Linked DNA regions of Homo sapiens: region 1 is linked to region 2. The links come from fine-mapping of genetic effects on gene expression. A gene starts in region 2. The other region holds a variant in brackets. All regions are shown on one strand. Distances are between the middles of the regions. Region 1 has its middle 90 kb from the start of UBE2E2-DT. Region 2 holds the start of UBE2E2 (ubiquitin conjugating enzyme E2 E2).

Region 1 (2,910 bases), 90 kb after region 2:
TTTAATTTTGAATGAATACTTGTAAATTAATACATTGATAAGTAACTCTATCAAGACAATCATAAGTCTAGATCATGTTTTCTCCCATTCAAACAACACCAGGGGTCAGTAAGCCTTTTCTGCAAAGGGCCAAGTAGTAATATTTTTGGCTTTGCTGGCCATATGGTCTCTGTCATAAGTACTCAACTCTTGTTGTAGAACAAAAGCAGCCACAGACAATTTGTAGACAAATGGATGTGGCTGTGTTCCAACGAAACTTTACAAAAACAGGTGGTGAACCCATAGGCTGTAGTTTGTCGACTCCTGGTAGATACACAAGATTGTGCTGTGTATGAAAGCAGATTGTGGTTGGAGGACATACACATCAAAAATCCTTTTGGCTTTTATTTTGGTATTTTTCTGCCATTGTCCATGGATTCAAGCTGTTTCTACTTCATATTATCATTTAGAGATAATGTTGTAAGAGTCTCTTCCATTTTTGTTGAGGAAAGCACAGAACTTCAGAGGCAATCTGCTTCTGTCTATGCTATGTTCTTTAGAGTTTAGCATACCACCTAGGATTAATAAATGCTAAATAATAATCATTTTTTCATTTCACTGCCATATCCTTTATGGCATCTCCTTTGGCACCCTCGGAGGTATTAACCTGTAGCTTTTACAATGTTCTATTACACATTGTCAGCAGTACCTTGCTGATTAAATCACACTCAGGAGAGAGTTAACTACAAGGCTGTAAGTATCCCTGACAGGTTGTTCTTGCACGGGCTTGGCTTTTCTTGTATGAAGATTAAGAATCTTGTCACAGCTGGTAAAAAATGAAGTACACGTAAAACCACTGAGCATACATAACTCACAAAAGGCACTTCCCTAAAAGTCAGAATTCAGATGAGCAGAGTAGATTATATAAAGGAAAGGATGACTATGAAGTGATGAACAGGTATTTCATCATCTTGGGTGTAGTGATGACATAGCCTTTTGTGGCTGTTTGTGTTGGAGGAGTGTCTTCTAACCCATGTAAAACTTTCATGATTAATCCAAGGATTTCATGTTTATAACTTCATTTAGTCAGATCCAGGCTAGTAGTCCCATTTTTTGGTATTTGTCCTGAAGATGAGCTTTTTTTCTTTTTTTGCCATGAATCTAATTTTTCTTTTCTACCATCCTTAGTGCAATGGTTAGAAAACTCTTTTTGCTCTCCTTCCAGATTCTTTGCTTAAACTGGACTTGTGCCCAAAGCAGCAGGAGATGCTGT[C/G]CCATAAAGCCAGAACATTTTATAAGTACTGGCAGTGACGGTTTATTACTTCATTCCGAAAACAACACAGAGAGCCCACTAAAGGAGGTCCGGGGGAGAAGGGGAGCCATGGAACAGTGCATCTGGGAGAAGTGCTGACCGCCAGGCTACCGAGTCAGTTGGGCTGTGTTGCTTTTGCGGCTTCATGCCTCGGGTGGTGATGAGCATAAAGGCCAGTGGGAATTTGACTGTTACAAGTTGTGATAAGAAAGCAACTAGTTAGGAGATTCACCTGCCAACCAGGCAAGACTGGGGCTGGTCAGGCAGACTCTATGATTTGAATTTATTAATTTATTAATAGATAGATGATTCTGGTAGTCTTAAACAGTAATCAATGTGGCTGAGAAAGTCTTTTAATTTTGAGAGAGTAAATATATATATATATATATATATATATATATATATATATGCCTGAACAAACCAGATAGATCTTTGTTTTTGCCATCCAGAATCAGCCATTATTAAGAGTTTGTCATATTTGTTTCTAGTCCTTCCATAAATGAAAGAGAGCCAGCATTAAAGATCAAGTTGAAGCTTTCTGTTTCTCATCCCTTGTTCTTTTTCCTCTCTCACCCAAAGTAACCACTATAATTAATTTTGTGGGTGTTTCAGTCAGGATCCTGGTGGGGAGCAGATGTCACACTTGAGGTGAATAATTTGGAGGAGTATTCATTAAAAATGCCATTTACACAGGTGTGGGCAGAATGTAGGGAAATCGCAGTGGGTATCCGAGTGCTAATACCCCTAGGCCTAAACGGGAGAAGGGAGAGAAGAGTTACTGGATTCCAGAGGAGACAATGGCACAGAGTGGGCAGTCTTCACAGGATCTGTGTCCTTTGGTTGAGGGACACAACCTGCCTCAGGCTGCACTGCAGGGAGGGAGCTGGCAAATCAACACCCCAGTCTCATTCTCCTCTGTCCTTTAGTCTCCTGGCCCTGCCCCTACTGGCCACACCCAACCAGGAGCCAGAAGGCAGCTGACATAGTCCATACAGGCCTGGGCAAGGAGGAAGTTGGGAAATGGACCCAGAGGGGACAAGTGTAAGACATCCAGCACAGCCAGCATCCTGAAACTATAGCAGACAGTATGTAGCAGAGTCAACAAACTTTTTCTGTAAAAGGCACAATAATACATATTTTAGTTTTTGTGAATGACATACAGTCTCTGTCCTATATTCTTCTTTTTCAATTTTTACAAACCTTTAAAAATGTGAAAACTGATCTTAGTTTATGAGCTGTAAAAAACAAGACATGGGCTTGATATACCCGGGGGGTGCAGTTTGCTGATTCCCTAACATATATGATATCAGTTTTGTGTATTTTTAAAATGTTTACATGATGTATACTATATTTTATTTCTTTTCTAATGCTATGTAGCAAATTATTTCAAACTTAGTGGCTTATAAGAACACTCATTTATTATATCACACAGTTCCATAGATCAAAATTCCAGGTGGGCTCATAAATGATTATTTAGATAGGAGCAATTAAAGTCTTGGTTAGCGTGTTATACTAACTTGGCTTTAGTGGTGAAAATCTAGTAGAGGTATTTTTATCCATGGGACTTCCCAATAGTCCTCAGATTATGTCCAGTGATGTCAACGACTGAGCCCGGCCAC
Region 2 (2,910 bases):
GTATGGCATTATATGAAAACACTCTATTTCAGCGTCAGCCCACATACAGAATTCCAAAGAGCCAAGGAGCATCCAAATTGCCGTAGTAAAGGCAAATATTTAGATTCACAAAGTCCAGACTGAATTATCACATATCTAGAAACATACTTTTTAAAGAAATCAGGGATTAAAAACTAAGAAGAGCGTAAAATCCTTTAGAACCGCGAGATACTTTGAGGGTAAACCCTAGCACTTCCTTTCGTACTTTTAAATAAAAATATTTTAGTAGACTCTCAAGAATACACAATACAAAACGATGAATCTTGAAAACATGCAAATGGGTCTAACAGCCACCGAGCACAGGATGATGTCTTTCTAAAGCAGCCTTAATTTCCTTAAGGGAAGATGGATTGGACATTTCTGGTTGGTCGTGGGGGAAAAAAGCCACAAGAAGCCACGCTTTATCTTCATTAGAAATGGTAAAGGGCAAAAAGATCAAAACATTATGAGAGAGATCGGAGAAAAGAGGGGGAGAAGTGGGGTGGGCGGGAAGGGGGAGAGGACAGAGGGAATCCAGTTTCAAACCAGGCCAGTGGGGGCTGCAGAGAAGAGACCAGAGAAAAATGGGCTTCGGTTCCAAACTGTGACAAGCGCCAGGCATCACAAAAGACCAATACAACACACACCCCTCACCAGGACACACACAAATATACCCCACAAGGTCTTCTCCGGGCGGGCCACCGGGGTGCGGCGGCGAAGGAGCCAAACCCGGCACTCGCCAGGAGACACACCATGTGCAGCAATTATGCAATTAGGGAAAATAGCAAAAGATCAAGCCGGGCACTTTCCACCGTGACATTTATCCTGTACTTTTGAAAAGACTTAGTTCCAGGATGCGGCTAGGAGAAGGAAAGCGCTGGGAGGGTTGAGAAGGATGGGGAACTGAGAACGGAAGGGGGTAGAAGGAGGACAGGGAGAGAAGAGGCAGAAGGGGGGGATGGGAAGAAGGGGGAGGGGTAGAAAGGGCGAGAAACGGGGGCAGGAGGCTCGCGGGAGGGGGCGTAGGGAACCGGGCACGGGGAGCGAGGAAGGAGGGAACTAGGGCACGAGCGGTGTAAGCAGAGACCTGCGACGCGGAGGGGAGGTCGGGGGAGTGAGGAGGACGTCAGCGAGAGGGAGGACGCCCGAGGAGGGGAGGCACCGGCGCGGCCCGAGCGAATACCTGAGGGGGGGGTGTCCGTGCAGGTCGCAGGCTCGAGCCGAAGCCCTGGGAGAGAGCTGCCCAGGCGCGAGGGGGAGGGAGACTGGGGAGGCCCCAGGGACGGGATGTCCCCTGCGGACCGTCTAGTCACCGAAAGCCGGACCCACGCACCACGCACCCGACCACGCCTGTCCCCGCCGCGCTCGCGCCCGCCCGGACTCACCCTCAGCGCCGCCGCTGCCGCCGCCCCCGGCCGTTCCAGCTCCGGCTCCTGAGGCTGCTGCCCGCGGCTGTCGCTGTGGCTGCCCCTGAGTCCTGGAAAGTGAAGCCACCACCTCCGGGAGCCGCCGCCGCCCGGCCGTCCGCGCGCGCACCCGCGAGTGCGCGTGCCTGCGCGCCCGCCCGGGAGAGACCGCGAGAGCGCGAGCCCCACGTCGGCCATGCGGCGCCGCGCGCCTCCCTCCTCCCCCCGCCCCTCCTCCTCCGGCGCGCGGCCGCGAGGGGGCGGGGGCGGGAGCGCGCCCGGGCGGGCTGCCCCGCCGGTCGGGAGAGGGGGTGGGGAGGCGGCGAGGAAAAGTAAAGTGACAGCTGGGTCCCGCGCGCAGACTGGGCTCTGACGGGGGTGAGCGAGGGGCGTCCCACGGGGAAGGAACGACAAGGACGGGGAGAAGTGGGGGAAACCGAGGCTGACGGGGTGGCTTGAGGGGAGGGGACGCGAGGACCTTGCCGGGCACGCGCATTAAAGGGAAACGCCGGCTGGGGGTTAGGGGTTACCCCAAGACGGTGCAGGCAGTGGGACGAGGAGGCCTTTTACCCCCATCCACCGCAGCCCTTGACTTCACGCTCGCCTCGAAGCTTTCGCAAAGTAGATACGGGGACTGACCCTGTTGACACACTAACCCAAACTCGCAGACGCGTGGGGCTCGCATGTACCCAAGACAGGAAAACTTCACGTTGGCCTGGAAACTTCTTCCAGGCTAAGCCTGAGTCTTCACCAGACACTGCAGCACGAAGGCCCTTCTGCCTTTTGGCTCGCCCTGGCCCAGAATGCGCACCAGCCGGTAGAGAGGAGCTTCGGGCCGTTTAGCCCTGGGGTATTGAAGAGAGGGGTGGGGGTACAGGGTGCACCACTGTCAGAGTGAGTGGGAAGCTGCCTTCATGCCCAGTTGAAGGATATGGGAACAGTAGCAGTGCTGTAGGTGGCATGAGGGAACATTAGGTTCCGTTGTACTCCTCATCCCAAATAACCGTTTAAAAAAAAAAAAAAAACGTACCTGCTTTGCGAACTTAGCTTCCACGAAATTTCTCCCACTCCAACCTCCAGCCTCACTTACCAACGGAATGCTGGGTCGTTGGCAACGGGGTGTCCAGGGATGCAGCAAAATTAACTTCTATCTTTGTGGAGGAAAGGATTGGAAGATCTTTCACTGCTTAATTGCTGAAATTATGGTTGCTACAGTACTTCATTTGACTGTAGATGTTTTAACTGCTATTTACTAAGTTCAAAATGGGTTTAATACAAATCAGTTACCCTTTTCATTTATTCAAGGAATATTTATTGATACCAGGCACTGTCTAGGTGGTAGATATATGACATTGAATAAAAGAAAAAAATCCTTGTCCTCAGAACTTCCCTATGTCTGAACCTTCTCTGTTGTACACTCAGCATCACATTCGTCAGCAAATTCTGTTGACTCTGTTTTCACAAATATATGGTGAAAATGTCCACT

Evidence for each region. PIP is the estimated chance that this variant, and not a neighbour inherited with it, causes the effect.
Region 1: its variant is fine-mapped to the expression of UBE2E2 in skin (TwinsUK, PIP 0.92).

The regions. Positions count from the first base shown.
Region 1 is chr3:23,112,017-23,114,926 of GRCh38, reverse strand. No RefSeq gene overlaps it. Among named protein-coding and RNA genes, the nearest start is that of UBE2E2-DT, 90 kb to the left of the region's middle. The variant C/G (reference allele first, on the strand shown) is at 1,253.
Region 2 is chr3:23,201,756-23,204,665 of GRCh38, reverse strand. It overlaps UBE2E2 (ubiquitin conjugating enzyme E2 E2), which reads right to left and starts at 1,339. Exons shown (of 6, transcript NM_152653.4): 1 at 1,202-1,339. It overlaps UBE2E2-DT (UBE2E2 divergent transcript), which reads left to right and starts at 1,673. Exons shown (of 2, transcript NR_136176.1): 1 at 1,673-1,802. RefSeq lists a silencer at 1,179-1,868 and enhancers at 2,219-2,278, 1,691-2,666.